Regions from separate parts of the Homo sapiens genome. Here region 2 is linked to region 1. Evidence: fine-mapped expression QTL. Tissue or cell type: thyroid. Region 1 holds a variant in brackets; the other region holds the start of a gene. All regions are shown on one strand. Distances are between the middles of the regions.

Region 1 (8,177 bases):
GATGCAGATAAAGCACTTAGCATTTCTCCGTGCCTCAGTTTCCATATCTGTAAAATGAGGCAACACTACCTCCCTCGCAGGGTTCTGGTACGGAGTAAATAAAGAAGGCATGTAAATCCTCTGGCACAGGGGCTGGCACGTGGTATGGCCTCGTGTGTGCTGCTTCCCCGCCCCCTCCTTCCCTCCGCCTCTCCTCCAGGCACGGGGGCCTCACCTGCATGTGTTCCCTCTTCCCTCTGTGGCCGCCCATCCTGTGCACAGAGGGCTTCCAGGACCCCGTGTGTCTCTCCTGTGCCACCCCACACATGGTCACAGATCCCCTTACTGGATGAGTAGAGAGCAGTGAGAAGCCCCCCAGGGGAAGTCTCAGAGCGGCCCTCAGGTGGCATCATATCACAGACCTCAGCAGGGAGTGAGCGTCGAGGCCTCTGGGGAGCCATCTCTGTACAGGTGGCCCCCCACACACATGCTGGGCCAAAGCCCAGCCTCTGGCCTCCTGCTCTGTGGCAATGCACCTCCCTCCCTGACATCTCAGGGGCCCCAGGGCTTGGTCAGACATGGAGAGGCCCTGCACCCCTGGCAAAAATGTATCGAGAGCCATGTGGGTTGTTGCAAAACAATACAAGTTCCCCTGGGGAAATGCTCATGATATGTAATTAGCTTTAAAAAAAAAAAAAAAAAAAAAAAAAGGTGAGCCACGAAACAGCATGTGCAATAAACCACAGTTCTATAAAAACAATCATGCATACTTGCATACATGCCTAGCAAAGAAGCTGGACAGAAACACATCATGGTAGGATTAAAAGTTGCTTTTAGTCTATCATTTTCTGTACTTTCTAATTTTTCTACAACAAACTGTATTTTTTTTAAAAAGGAAGAGAGAGGAGGAGGTAGGGAGGAGGGATGGACTGAAGAGCATCTCAGGTAATGCTAAGCAATGCACAGGCCAGGGAGGGGTCCCTTGTGCCTGGAGTCAGCCCCAGACAGCTCCACACCCTTTGGAGACAGTGACAATGAGCAGCTCACCGAGTAAGCACCTAATCTCTCCCATCTCATTTCATCCCCACCAACAGTGCCATCCGGTGAGTCTCATCACCCTGCTTTACAGAGATTAGCAACTGAGGGGGCCGGGTATGGTGGCTCACACCTATAATCCTAGCACTTTGGGAAGCCAAGGCAGGCAGATCACTTGAGGTCAGGAGTTTGAAACCAGCCTGGCCAACATGGTGAGACCCCGTTTCTACTAAAAATAGAAAAAAATTAGCCGGGCATGGTGGCGGGTGCCTGTAATCCCAGCTACTCGGGAGGCCGAGGCAGAAGAATCACTTGAACCCAGGGGGCAGAGCAGAGGTTGGAGTGAGCCAAGATCACGCCACTGCACTCCAGCCTGGGCGACAGAGACTCCATCTCAAAAGAAAGAAAAGAAAAGAAACTGAGGGTTAGGCAGAGAAGCCAAAGAGCATGTCCTGGGTCATGCAGCTAACATGTAGGGCAGGCGGGATCCAAACCAGCTCTGTGTGGGAGACGGTTGCACCAGAGGGATTAGAACACAGGTTCTGGAAGCCAGCTGGGGTTAACTCTGGCTCTGCTCATCTTTCTCTGTGACCTTGGGCTGATGTCATGTCCTCTCTGTGCCAGTTCCCACATCTCTAGAATGCAGATTGTATCAGCGCCTGTCCTGTGAGAGTGTTGCAAGGATGAATGGCACTGGGGAGGGAAAGCTCTCAGAGCGCAGCATGTAAGAAGTGCTGGGTACATTCAGGCCATTATGATCTGGCCCTAGAGCCAAACACACACACAGGCACATAAAAATAACATGGCCTGGCAGAGCATGTCAGCCCCCATCGCAGTCACTCAGTAAAGAGGTGCTGGGTGAAAGGACAGGAAGACGCAAGGGAAGGGCAGGGGAATACCGGCCAGTCAGCAGAGCACCATCCTAGATGCACAGAGAGGGCCATAGAGAAAGGGCAAACAGAGCCCCTGGCCTGAGGCTTTGAGCCCAAGCACCATGCCTGCCAGCCCAGCCCCACAGACAAGTGACGCTCTCTCCCAGGTCTGGTCTGCAAAATGGTGCCCACGATAATTTCCTCTTTCCAGGGCTGTCGTGTTAGTTTCCTATGGCTGCTGTAACAGATGACCACGAACTTAGTGACTTACAACACAAATCTGTTCTCACAGGTGTGGAGGTCAGAAGGCCATCAAGGGGTTCGCAGGGCTAAAAGCGAGGTTTCGGCAGGGCTGTGCTCTCACTAAAAGCGAGGTTTCAGCAGGGGCAGCTCCAGGGGAGAAGCCATCCCCCACCTTTTCCAGCCTCGAGAAGCCACCTGCATTCCTTGGTCACAATCCCGTCCTCCATTTCCAAGGCCAGGAGCGTGGCATCTTCCCACCTCTTTCTGACTCTGGCCCTCCTGTCTCCCTCTTGTCACAACCCTTGTGGTGCCACTGGGCCCACAGATAACCCAGGGTCATCTCCCCATCTCAAAACCCCTCACTTAATCACATCTGCCAAGTCCCTTTGCCACGCAGCGTCACAGATTCACAGGTGCTGGGGATGAAGACACGGAAATCTCCAAGGGGTGGAAGGGCCATGATTCTGCCTCCCACAGTTGTGAGAATCAAAATGAGATGTAAACTGTAAAGTCCGTGCACGTGTAGGCTGTTAGTATTGTTGCACCATCTCTGCCAGGCACTGGGATAAAAAACGAGTGAGGCAGAGTCCCACCGCTGCAGGGATGCAGGGAGGAACGTCACAGGATTCCTTGAAGGCATATTTATACCATGAAGAGATGTGCCAACCAGGTACCCTGCAAGTGCCTTCTTCAATGAAGAGGCTGTGGGGGTCCTCAAAGGGCCTGGGATCCAAAGGTCCTGGCTCTGATTGGAAACTGGGAGCCCTTGTTTCTACCCTCGGAGAAGGAAAAGAAGGAAAGAAAACACAAAAACCAGCTTGTCCAATTTATGGATTTGGCAAGGGACCTTTAAAGAAAGATTTTTAATGGAAAGAAAGACCTGGTCCCCATAACCCTCCCATGGGGGACTCCATGGGCGGAGAGCCGGTATCTGCCATGCCTCACGTCCCGCATGGACCCTGCGGGACAGGACGCAGGAGGCTCAAATGTTCCGGATTTGGGAAACAGCACATGTAAGGAGAAGCCCAGGATTCCAAACAACTCCAGACTAGGTCTGCGGCAATCTGGGAAATCTTGAAGATTTCCTCCAGACGCTGCGGACCCACTCCGGCCTTGCTGACCTGCCCTTCCCATGAGCCCCTATGTCCCCCACACCTAGCAGTCTCAGAAGCCACAGGCCACCAGCGCCCTGTTTCCATCCTGTGCCAATACTGCTTTGCTGAGCCTGGTCTCCTCTTGCCCTGATCCTCTCAGCCCCTGATACATCCAGGGAAGATGAGTCTCCCTGTCCTCTCCCAGAATACGGCTGCCCCATCACTTCCCCTGGCTCCAGGCCCCAATGAGAGACACTAGCCAACAGGCAGTACAACCATCTTATCCAGAAAAGCCCAGGAAGGGGTAGGCCAGGTACCTTCAGGGAGCCCATGAGAATCCCTGCGACCAGGGCCAGGAGCCAAAACCCTGACCCACAGAAAAGTGCTGAGGTCACAGGGGGATAAAGGCAAAACTAAACAGGAAAAGCAAACAACTCCAGAGGGGGCCAGAGTCCATGGGGCTATTGCACTCAGAGGTGAGGGGTGCAGGCCTGAGTCCAGGAAAAACACAGGAAGCCAGCGATCTGTGGCGCTCACGTTTCCCAGGCACTGCTGGGTACTCAGGGCTGCTCTTTCAACCA[C/T]GACTCCCCCAGCGAGAGCTCAGGGTGGACATGAGTGCACGTGCTTCAGAGTCCACCAGGAGAAGCAAACCCTGTGGGCCTCAGTAGACAGCTTTGAGGGCAGACAGGCCTAGTCCCAGCCCTGCCATTTACTAGCTCCATGAGATTTGGGTAAATTACTTCAGTTCTCTAAGCCTCAGCTGCTCATCTGCAAAATGGGCATATTCAATAGTACCTGTCTTCTAGGGCTCCTAGGGGTACAAGTAATAAGATAATACAGGCCAGATGCAGTGGTTCATGCCTGTAATCCCAGCACTTTGGGACACCAAGGCAGGAGGATTGCTTGAGCCAAGAGTTCAAGACCAGCCTGGGCAACAGAGTGAGATCTCCATCTCTACAAAAAATATGAAAGTTAGGCCAGGCGCGGTGGCTCACGCCTATAATCCCTGCACTTTGGGAGGCCGAGGTGGGTGGATCACCTGAGGTCAGGAGCTCAAGACCAGCCTGGCCAACATGATGAAACCCCATCTCTACTAAAAATACAAAAAATTAGTTCGGCGTGGTGGCACACACCTGTAATCCCAGCTACTCAGGAGGCTGGGCAGGAGAATCACTTGAACCCAGGAGGCAAAGGTTGCAGTGAGCCGAGATGGCGCCACCACACTCCAGCCTGGGCAACAAGAGCAAAACTGTCTCAGAAAAAAAAAAAAAAAAAAAATAGCCAGGCATGATGGCACATGCCTGTAGTCCCAGCTACTCGGGAGGCTAAGGCAGGAGAATCGCTCAAGCCTGGAAGGTCAAGGATGCAGTGAGCCATGATCACACCACTGCACTCCAGCCTGGGCAACAGAGTGAGACCCTGTTTCAAACAACAACAAAAAGAGATAATGTACACAGAGCACTTAGCACAGCCTGTGGCTCAGCACAGCACCATCAGCACCAGTGAGGTCAGGTGGCTCTAGCCATGTGGCCTTGGGCCACACAACCACTCTGCGCTTCCCTTCCCTGGCCTCTGTCTTGGCCTCTACAGCTGCCAGAGTCAGAATCCAATAGAAACCCTATTGACATGCCATTCATTTGGGGGTAGAGGGGTGGGGTGGTATTCTTTGGTTGGTTTTGTTTCTTTGTTTGTTTGTTTTTGAGACAGAGTATCGCTTTGTCACACAGGCTGGAGTGAAATGGCGCAATCTCGCCTCACTACAACCTCCACCTCCCAGGTTCAAGCGATTCTCCTGCCTCAGCCTCCCCAGTAGCTGGAATTACAGGCACCGTTCACCAGGACCGGCTAATTTTTGTATTTTCTGTAGAGACGGGGTTTCACCATGTTGGCCAGGCTGGGTCTTGAACTCCTGACCTCAGTGGTCCACCCACCTTGACTTCCCAAAGTGCTGGGATTACAGGCGTGAGCCACTTCACCAGGTCTGACATGCTGTTTGCTTTCTCCTTGCTTCCATGGAACACAGACCCTCCTTGTCCTTCTGTCCATCATTCGTTCACCAAGGACGTCTTTGGCACTCACCCCGTGCCTGCCACTTAAGCCATGAGGTTTGGCAGCAAACAAAACATCCCCCTCCAAAAAATCAAAAAGTCCCTGTCCCCATAGAGGCAACTGCTGGTGGAGAGACACACCTGCACACCCCTCCGCCCTCACAAGATCTCTGTGTTGGGGGAGCGAAGAGCCGGCTCTTTTTGCTCTGCTCTCATGTCAAGGGAAGGGACCTCACCAGGAATCACACACCAGGCACTGCCGCACAAGCCTCCCCGGGAGGGACCTATGGAACATTCCACCGACTGCTTAGACGCCACTCTCCCAAGAGCTCAGAGATCATCTCTGAGTGGGCAAAAATCTTTCCTCAAAAAATGTACACACAATCAGATCATTCCTATGAAGCCAGCCACACCCTCTCATCAGGGACCAGCGCATGAGCTCCTGGAGGCAGAGAAGCACGGTGGCCCAGCGCCTGGCCTCGGTGTCAGAGGGGCCTTGGTCTCTCTTCTGAATGAGCATCTACTTATCTACATGGAACCCTGAGCACATCACCTAACTCCTGGGGTCTCCAAGAGGGTAGCTTGAAGGAAGTGAGTGTGCTGACCACCCTGTGTGCCAGCCCTGTACCTCTGCTCAGGGGCTTCCTCAGCAGGCACTCCCCCTGCCCCTCTGCCATCCTGAATGGAGAATTTCCATTCACTCGCTGAGCCAGGACCTGGCCCAGAAGTCTTCCCTGACGACCCCATCCTTGCTCCCCTCCAGTCAGTGTCCCAGCTCCCTGGGCGTCCGTCTCTGTCCCACTCTGACGCATCTGCATCTCCCACCAGACTGAGTTTCTCCACAACTTCACCCCTGGCCCACCCTGGAGATATAAACCCTTGGAAGACTGCAGCCATCACGGCCCTTCCCAGCCCAGGTGCAGGACGAATGGCTGCTGATTCATTTCAGGTCCCTAATCAGGAAGGAGAGGCTGGCCTCTAATTCTCACCTTAATTACATAGTAGCAAGCTCAGGAGAAACCCTCCCCAAGTCCACCCACTCTGGACAGCAAATGAGCACATGAAGGACTTCTCCTCTGGGGGCCTGGGCCTGCAACCTGCATCTCTGAAACCTCCCGTTGGGTGACACCACCCTGAGAATTAGCCCCTCTTGCTCAGTTTGGGGCACCCCAGGAAGACAAAGCAGGGCTCAGACATGCCTCCCCTCACCAGGGTAGTGAGGATTTAAACTCAGGGTTCCAGATGCTTGGGCCATTCATTTGGAGCCTAGACCCCTCCACTGCTTAGGCAAGGAGGCTCTAAACACCTGGTCCTGAGAGGCCTCAGCTCCCACCACCTCCAGTTACCCAATTACCCTTCCAACCCAGACCTGACTTGCAGAAGACAAAGAAGAACTGTGATAAAAAGCAAATGCCTTGATTAGGCACCTACCACGAGGCTGGGCATCTTACCCGATAGCCCATTTTACAGATGAGAAAACCAAAGGGGGACTTGACTGACATGAGGACCTGTGGCCAGTGTGGGGGCCACAGCCAAGACGCAGGCCCTCACCCCAACATCCAGGCTCCTAACCACTAGGCTACACTGCCTCTGACAGGCTCCCAGGCACAGAGGGCAGGGTCCCTAATAGCAACTGTCATAGGAATGGGAATGATATTAACAAGACAAATGGCAACTGCAAAAATAATTACAATGGGCTGCACCCCCCCCACCCTCAAACCCCCCCAACCTCCCCCACTACACACACACACACACACACACACACACACACACACACACACACACACACTGGGGACCCTCCAGCTGTTTGCTTCTCCAAGACAAACCCAACAGAGGGGGTGCTCTCATTGTTTCCCCTTCAGCCGCAAACAGACTGACACTTGGAGAGTTTCTGTGACTCCTCCAAGGCCACAGAGGTAGGGTTTGGAGCCAGGCCTGCCTCCTGCGGTTTCAGAGGTTTGTGGGCAAAATAAAGGAAAAAGTACCATGAGTTTCTGGAACTGACCTCTTCCCCCAGGGCACAGGGCCTCAGTGAAATGCTTTCCTCCTTAGCCAAAGACCAGTCGGGTCCTCTGGGCCTCAGCTCCACCCCATCCCCACCCACTGCCCGGTGTCTCCCTGTTTCCAACCGCCAAAGCAAAGGAGCAAGGTTCACTTACCCTGTGCCGGGTGGAGCAGCTGCTGGGTCTGGGTCTGCAAAAGAAGAGCAGACAGAGAGCCTGTCAGGCCAGAGGCTGGCCCCAGGCACTCAGGCCTTCCCCGCCCCTTTCCCAGCCTCCCCAGGGGCGCCGCAGACAGGGCCTGGCCAGTCTGGGTGCCTGCTGAGCCCCGCCTCCCTCCCCCAGCCCTGGCTCAGTCATCAGCTCCCCTACCTGGCCTGCACCACCCCCACCCACCCCGTGGCCCACTTCCCAACTCCAGCCAGAACCCGTGGCAGCCACCCTGCCTGCTCTGGGCCTGCCCTCCACCCCCAGCTGCTCCAGGAGCCCGCTGTCCCCAAGCCTGCAGGAAGTTCCAGCTGGTCCAGTCCCCAGATTCTCTCTCTCAGATAACAGACTCTAAGAGCCCAGAAGCTGCCATTTAACACCAGCTTATCAGGGCCCTCCTGCCCCCCAGGGTTGCCAGCTCCCCAAGGCAGACAGGAGAGGGAACCTCTGGGAGGCTGCTCTTCTGGCTGGTGTGGATTCTTTAGGAGAAGCTGCAGGGAGGACTTCAGAGACACAAGCTCTGGGCAGCAACTGTCTCCAAAGCAAAACTCAGGCCAACCACTTCCATTTACAATGTGCCAAAGTGCGCCAGATGTTGCAGGAATGCTAGGAATTTCCAATTCACCAGGGAAGCCACAGACTGCAGCTTCTTCCCACTGGCTTTTCCCTTCCTGCTTTCTGGGGACAGCGGAGGGGCCA
Region 2 (8,177 bases), 51 kb after region 1:
AAAAGCACAGGTAATAATAGAATAAAATAATTAGGAAAAAAATTGAGTATTTATTACTTTATAAAATATAATTTACAGGCTGGGCATGGTGGCTCACGCCTGTAATCCCAGCACTTTGGGAGGCTGAGGTGGGCAGATCACCTGAGGTCAGGAGTTTGAGACCAGCCTGGCCCACATGGTGAAACCCCGTCTCTACTAAAAATACAAAAATTAGCCGGGAGTAGTGGTGCACGCCTGTAGTCCCAGCTACTCGGGAGGCTGAGGCATGAGAATCGCTTGAACGTGCGTGGGAGGCAGAGGTTGTAGTGAGCCGAGATCATGCCATTGCACTCCAGCCTGAGCAACAAGAGCCAAAACTCCATCTCAAAAAAAAAATTATTATATATATATATACACACATATATATGTATAAAATTTATGGCCAGTCACAGTGGCTCATAATTGTAATTCCAGCACTTTGAGAGGCTGAGGCAGGTGGACCACCTGAGGTCAGCAGTTCAAGACCAGCCTGGCCAACATAGTGAAACCCCATCTCTACTAAAATACAAAAAATTAGCCAGGTGTGGTGGCAGGCACCTGTAATCCCAGCTACTGTAATCCCAGAGGCTGAGGCAGGAGAATCACTTGAACCCAGGAGGTGGAGGTTGCAGTGAGCAGAGATCACGCCACTGCATTCCAGCCTGAGCAACAAGAGTGAAACTCCATCTCAAAAATATATAATAGCAGCCAGGCGCGGTGGCTCATGCCTGTAATCCCAGCACTTTGGGAGGCTGAGGCAGGTGGATCACCTGAGGTCAGGAGTTTGAGACCAGCCTGGCCAACATGGTAAAACCCCGTCTCTACTAAAAATACAAAAATTAGCTGGGCGTGGTGGCAGGCACCTGTAATTCCAGCTACTGAGGGGGCTGAGGCAGGAGAATCACTTGAAACCAGGGGGCGGTGGTTGCAGTGAGCTAAGATTGTACCATTTCACTCCAGCCTGGGCAAAAGAGTGAGACTCCATCTCAAAAAACAAACAAACAAACAAACTATATATATATAATTTACTTAATGATGAATGTATACACTCAAAAAAAATTTTTTTTTTTGAGACGGAGTTTTACTCTTGTCCCCCAGGCTGGAGTACAATGGCACAACCTCGGCTCACTGCAACCTCCGCCTCCTGGGTTCCAGCAATTCTCCTGCCTCAGACTCCCGAGTAGCTGGGATTACAGGCATGGGCCACCACACCCAGCTAATTTTTGTATTTTTAGTAGAGATGGGGTTTCACCATGTTGGCCAGGCTAGTCTCGAACTCCCGACCTCAGGGGATCTGCCTGCCTTGGCCTCCCAAAGTGCTGGGATTACACGCATGAGCCATCGCTCCTGGCCTCAGAATTTTTTATAATGGTTGTGTTTAACAACCGGCTCATAAAATTCCTAAAATTTAGCAATCAGCTCTTATGTGTAGGTGTGAGCTGGCTCCCAACTCACCACTGCCCAGGACCCGGCAGAGGCTCTGTAAGGACCAGTCACTCCTGGGAATGTCATCAGACCAGGGTCCTGAATGAAAATGGCTCTGATGCCCTCCACTGAGGTAGAGAGAAGAAGAACTCTCTGGGACACTGCAAGGAAGGAGCTGAGCTGGGCCCAAGGTGGCACCATGGGGCGGAACAACTCTGGCACACTCAGTTGTTAAAGAGCCTGATTCTCTCCTGGACTTTAGACCCCTTGAGGGCAAGAACAGTGGCCCATTCACCCTTGTCTAGCCGGGTGACAGGAATACAAAAGGCACTGGAGACAGTTGTGCAGAAGAAAGCAAGGACTGAGTGGCCAGGGAGTCCCAGGCTGAGTGCTGGCGCCTTCGCTGACTCGCTTCAGCAGTGACCTTCGACAGTCACTTAAATGCTGTATGCTCAGCTTCCTCATCTGTAAGATGGATATGAACCCATCTCCCTGCCTAACTACTAGGGTGTTGTCAAAACAAAGAGATAGCAGATATGAAAGTACAATATAAATCCACGTTATTATCTTATCATGGCATATATATCATTTACTTTATCTTTTCAAAATTAATCATAGAAGATTACATGTATTCTTTCCACTCTGTTCCTTCTCAGTGTGTAAGAGGTACATGCTTAAAGCATCTAGCCCAACACCTGGCACTCAGCATATACTATAAATGTCTGTTAATTAATATACTATTTCCCCAAGTAACAGTACACTTTTCTCATATATATAATTAAGACAGGGTCTCCCTCTGTCACTTAAGCTGTAGTACGGTGGCACAATCACAGCTCACTGCAGCCTCGAACTTCCAGGCTCAAGTGATCCTCCCATCTCAGCCTCCTGAGTAGCTGGGACTACAGGCGTGCACCAGCACATCCAACTAATTTTTAAAATTTTTTGTAGAGACATGTTCTCTTGTGTTGCCCAGGCTGGTCCCGAACACCTGCGCTCAAGTGATCCTCCCACCTGAGGCTCCTAAAGTGCTGGGATTACAAGCATGAGCCACCATGCTCAATCTTCTTCTTTTCTTTTCTTTTTTTCTTTTGAGATAGAATCTCATTCTGTTACCCAGGCTGGAGTGCAGTGGCACAATCTTGGTTCACTGTAACCTCCGCCTCCCGGGTTCAAGCGACCCTCCCACCTCAGCCTCCCAAATAGCTGGGATTACAGACGTGCACCACCACACCCAGCTAATTTCTGTTTTCGTTTTTGTTTTGAAATGGAGTTTCACTCTTGTCACCCAAGCTGGAGTGCAATGGTGCGATCTTGGCTCACTGCAACCTGCACTTCCCGGGTTCAAGCGATTCTCCTGCTTCAGCCTCCCGAGTAGCTGGGACTACAGGCATGTGCCACTATGCCCAGCTAATTTTATATTTTTAGTAGAGATGGGGTTTCACCATGTTGGCCAGGCTAGTCCTGAACTCCTGACCTCAGGTAATCCGCCCACCTCAGCCTCCCAAAGTGCTGGGATTACAGACATGAGCTACTGAGCCTGGCCATAATTTTTGCATTTTTAGTAAAGACAGGGTTTCACCATGTTGGCCAAGCTGATCCCGAACTCCTGACCTCAAGTGATCCACCCAACTTGGCCTCCCAAAGTGCTGGGATTACAAGGGTGAGCCACCACACCCAACCTCCTCTTATACTAACCTGGTACCTGGGCCCCAGAGCAGTACACCAGCTTTCGCCCCTCCCCAGACTACTCCAGAGTTAAAACTTGAAACAGAATTTGGGAACCATTAGTTATTGGACATTCATTTATTCAGCAACTATGTGTAGAGCACCCACTATGCACCAGGCACTGTTCTGAGCTGTGATCAAGGACAGACATGGCCCCTGTTCCACTGGAAGACTGAAAAAAGCCCCCCGCCCCCACAACTGGGGCAGGAACCCTCAGAGCACTGTGGCTACCCTGGCTCACTGGAGAGGAAGTAGCTCCCGAGTGAGAAATGAAAGAGGTGAAGGATGGGACCCACTTCCTGGATAGAGAGAACAGCCCACAGAGGCTCTTTGGTGGAAGGGGAAGGGACAGGGGGCCTCAGGAAGGCAAGCGCCTGGGGACAGAGCGAGCATCAGATTCGGGCACCCCAGGAAGCCTTCCTTACAGGAGGGTTCTGAGCTTCAGCCTGAGGGCCCGATGAAGGGGAAGGGCAGTCCCCAGCCCACAGTCACAGGGAGCTTGGAGATTTCCGGAGGCTGACCTGCTTTCTAGTCTGTGTGTCCAGGGCCTGAACACCGTGGGGGGCACAGTGCTGGGCGGATGCTGGGAAGAGCTATGCATTCTAATGAGCCCGCACAACCTGCCCTCTCTCCCCAGAACCCGAGGAGGAGCAGATGGGGCTCCCGGCAGGTGGGGCGTGGCTTCCCAGTAGCATCCTTAAGGGAGGCCAAGGACTCTGGGGCAGAAACTGAGCTCCAAAGCCAGTGGGAAAGTGCAGCCCACCAGCCACCACCTCTCTACTTGGCACTGATGCAACGCAGGGCCTCCTGGCTTTCAGGGCCAAAGGAAGATTCGAGACCCCCGCCCCAGGGCCCCGCTTTGGCAGAGGGAGGAAGAATTGTCCCCATGCCCCCTACAGTCAGGCCTGCTCTCCCTCTCGGAGGCCATCCCAGCGACTCCAGGGGGGCTGGTCTTCATCTAGGGCCCTCCCTGACATATATCCCTGTTCCAGGGAGGATCCGGGACTGGCGGCTCCGCAGCCACGGCCTCCGGCTGACCCGGCATCCTCTCCTCCCACAGTCTCCTCCTGCAGGAGGCCGTCCCGTTCCGCCTCTGGGCGGGGGTCCAGGGTGGGAGAGGCTGACTCACCACAGAGGCGACAGGGGCACTCCCTGACTTCACCCGATCCCAGGGACCCCCAAGGTCAGCGCAGGAAGAAGTGGACCACAGGGGAAAGTGAGGCACAGGGTGGGGGTGGGGGTTCCCAAACTGTCCTGACTCCAGCCGGCTGGAGGCCACACACACACACAAGCTGAAGCACAAAGGCCACTCGCCCTAGTAACACCAGAACTCCAGTGACACAAGGAGAGACCCACACAGAGGGGAGACGCGGGCTCGGGGCTCTCACACCCAGACACAGGGACACAGCGGCGGACACGGCCCCCGCCCGCCCACGGCGACACGCCCAGGACACCCGGAGGACCCTGGCGCCTGGAGCGCCTCCCGCGCACTCGCAGACTCCGGCACACGCGAGGATCCCGCGGAGGCAGGGCCCCCGCGCTCACTCACCCACCTCGGCTGCCCGGGCCCGCGCCTTTGTCGTCCGCGCCGCTCACAAAGGCGCCTGGCGGCCGGCGCCGCGCCTCCAGCTCCGCAGGCCGCCGCGGGCGCCCATGGCCGGGACGGCGCCCCCACCGCCGCAGCCGCCGCCACCCGAGCCAATGGCCGCGCCGCCCGCCCGCCCGCGAGGTCCGGGCCCGCCGGGACTGCGCCCGCGCCCGCCGCGCTCCGAGGCCTGGTCCCGCCGCCGCCGCCGTGCGCGACGCGGCGCCGCCCCCGCCCGCCCGGTCCCGGGGCGCCGCGGCTGAGGTCACCGCTTAACCCCTGGTGGCCGGGGCAGCGGCCGCCGCGCCCCCTCCCTGCTCCCAGCGCGCCGCGAGGGAGACGTGGCCTCCCCCGACCCGCTGCGAGCCCCCAGCGGTCCCGGCAGCCCACCGGCCCCCCACAGTACAGGGGGGAAACTGAGGCCCGCGGGGATGGGGCCCGGCCCCGGCCACACGGCGACCTCCTCGCTCCTTCACCTACCCCGGGGTCCCCACTTCCCGCCTCCCGGTTCTCCTTCCCCGGTTCTCCGCGGGGAGACCCCGCAGGCGCGCAGGGTGCTGGCTTCTCCTCCCCCACTTCAACATTTTGCCCTGAGGTTCCCCCAAAAGGGTGAGAATCCTGGACCGGCCCCAGGGGAAACCCTAGACTTATGACCTGCCCCTCAACCAGTCTTGGCGGCCCCGTATTGCCCCCCACCCCCGCCATGGCAACATGGGGAACCTTGCAGCCATGCAGCCAAACCTCCAAGAACAACCCTGGCGGGTTCAGGCATTGACGGCTTTGAGACCGGCAACACCCCAGTGATGTAGCCCCATTTTCCCTAGGAGAAAACTGAGGCTCAGAACTGAGAGTAACTTGGCAAAGCTCACTGAGCAGCAAAGTGCTGAGACTGAGATCCTAGCATTCCCCTGCCTTTGCAGCTCCAAAGCTGCCAAACACTAGGTACTCCCTCCTGAAATTCCAAAGAGGGCCTCTGGATATGATGCAATTAATTACAGTTATCAGGTCATTAATTAAGATTATCCGCGTTGTTGTTAAACACTCCCCCGCTACCCCTCTATTTGCAAGGAAATTCACACGCGGGCTTATCAGCAATTACTCCTGGGTTGATAATGATAAGTTCTGCAGCCTCCAAAGGGTACAGGTGCACGTAGGTTGAAATCATTTTCAGCTTGTGTTCCTTACAGCCCACAGCCAGCAAAAACTTTTTTTTTTTTTTTTTTTTAACTACTCCCTATTTGTCAGGCACCAGCCTCAGGGGCTACCAGTGAGACAAAGAACCAGACAGACCCCAGCCCCGCCCCCTCGGAGCTCATAGGCTTAGGAGAAGACGCAAATAAACAAACGGCTACAGTGCAGTGAGACAAGCCACACAGGCCACGCACTGAAATCATCTTATTCACCGACTTGTTGGTTTGTTTATTGTCCCTCTCGACACAAGAACATAAGCACCACAGAGTTGTCCTGAGCCCCAGGCTAGGGCAACACTGGCTCATAGTTTAAGTAGGCAGGAGATATTCTTTGAGCATTTTTGCTCTGTTCCAGACATCGTTCTAGGCACGCAGGAGACACCAGTGAACACAACAGGCACGGCCCCTGCCCTGCTGTGAATAAATGATGGCAGGACAGCAGACAGGAGAGGTTTGGGGATGCTAGCAAAGCAGGAAGAAGACTTCAGATGTCCATTGAGTGACCTCAGGCTCATGGCATTAAGCTTTGGACCAGAAATGGACTTTTGAGTCCTGCCGTCATAGCCAGAGCCAAGTACACATCCCAGACCAGCATCGCGGTCTTTCACAGTGTACTCCAACCCCTTCCTTGGCTATGTTTTTTTTCTTTCTTTGTTTTTTTTTAAGAGACTGGGTCTTGCCCTGTGGCTCAGGCTGGCACAATCAGCTCACCGTAACCTCAAACTCCTAGGCTCAAGCAATCCTCCTGCCTCAGCCTGCAAGTAGCTGGCACTACAGGTGCGGGCATGGTGGTGCCTGTAGTGCCTATATTGCCAGGTAGCCATGCCTGGCTCATTTTTTTTTTCTTTTCTTTCTTTTTTTTTTTTTTTTTTTTGTAGAGATGGTGGTCTTACTATGTTGTCCAGGCTGGTCTTGAACTCCTGGGCTCAAGAGATCATCCCATCTTGGCCTCCCAAAGTGCTGGGATTACAGGTGTGAATCACCGTGCCCGGCCTTCTTTATTGTCTTATTTCCCATCTGATCCTGAAATGTCTGACGCCTCCAGCTCAGGATGCCCCTTACCTTCTTTGGTTGTACTAAGTCTTACCCTCCTGTCTGAGAACCAACACAAGGCCCAGAATCTCCAGGAGGCCTTTTCACATGGCCTCCTCCATTCCCTGACCTCTCCCTCCTCTGAGCTCTATAGCACCTAGTCCTTTTGTTGTAAGTTGGCTCTGGGTGCATAACTGATTTGACCCATCTAGCTTGAGGGCAGCTATGATACAGCCTTGAGGGCAGGGGCCATGCCCCAGACCCCCGTTGTGCCCTCAGAGCCCAGCACAGGTTAGGGGCACACTCTTTAGAGGATCGTAATGGATTCTAAAGGACACCCTAGAACCCTTATCAATATAACCCTCTGGGTCTAGGGTTCCAAACCACCTGCTCATAAAACAAATTGAGTCTGCAGAAGCATTTTGTTTTGCCCACAGTGGTTTTGTTGTTGTTAGTTGCCATCATTTAATCATTGGGAGATTTCCCATAAAAAGTCAGATTGCAGCCAGGAGCAGTGGCTCATGCCTGTAATCCCAGCACTTTAGGAGGCCAAGGCAAGAGGATTGCTTGAGGCCAGGCATTTTAGACCAGCCTGGGCAACATAGGGAGACCCCTGTCTCTACAAAAATAAAATAAAATAAAATAAAATAAAATAAAAATCTAGCCAGATGCGGTAGTGCATGCCTATAGTCCCAGCTACTCAGGTGGCTGAGGTGGGAGGATCACTTGAGCCCAGGAGTTTGAGGCTGCAGTGAGCCATGATCCCACCGCTGCACCCCAGCCTAGGCAACAGCATGACTCTGTCTCTGAAAAAAAAAAATTAAAAGCCAGATTTCTAGCTTCTCTTAACAAATCGGAAGATCTGATAATGCCAGGTCCACATTCCCCCAGGGCCACACTCTGCAGGGCCCCAGGAGTGGTGGCCCTTTAGACACAGCTGTGCTCTCCACTTGTCAACGTCACTCGCAGCCCTCTGTCACTCCTCTGATTTAAGGCCCCTCCTCTGTGATAGTGTTTTGATTTCATTTTCCCTCTACTCTCCACTCTGGCGAGAAAGAGTGACATCACAAAACATATGCTGGAAAATAAATAAACCTGCAGCCCTCACAGTCCAGGCCAGCCCTCAGCAGGCCACATCTTCACGTATTCTTGCCCTCTTGACATGCACCCGCCTCTTCACTCTCACTTCCCCAGAAGCACAT

Direction of the effects. Positions count from the first base shown, and alleles are read on the strand shown. Sizes are in standard deviations (SD) of each study's normalised expression.
For the expression in thyroid of the gene that starts at base 4,974 in region 2, T is the high allele of the variant in region 1 and C is the other (small effect, 0.31 SD a copy in GTEx).

The links. PIP is the estimated chance that this variant, and not a neighbour inherited with it, causes the effect.
Region 2: it holds the start of ARHGEF10L, and the variant in region 1 is fine-mapped to the expression of ARHGEF10L in thyroid (GTEx, PIP above 0.99).

The regions. Positions count from the first base shown.
Region 1 is chr1:17,587,733-17,595,909 of GRCh38, reverse strand. It overlaps ARHGEF10L (Rho guanine nucleotide exchange factor 10 like), which reads right to left. Exons shown (of 29, transcript NM_018125.4): 4 at 7,431-7,464. Among named protein-coding and RNA genes, the nearest start is that of ARHGEF10L, 52 kb to the right of the region's middle. RefSeq lists enhancers at 5,441-6,006, 6,573-7,138. The variant C/T (reference allele first, on the strand shown) is at 3,805.
Region 2 is chr1:17,536,495-17,544,671 of GRCh38, reverse strand. It overlaps ARHGEF10L (Rho guanine nucleotide exchange factor 10 like), which reads right to left and starts at 4,974. Exons shown (of 29, transcript NM_018125.4): 1 at 4,722-4,974. RefSeq lists an enhancer at 7,834-7,883.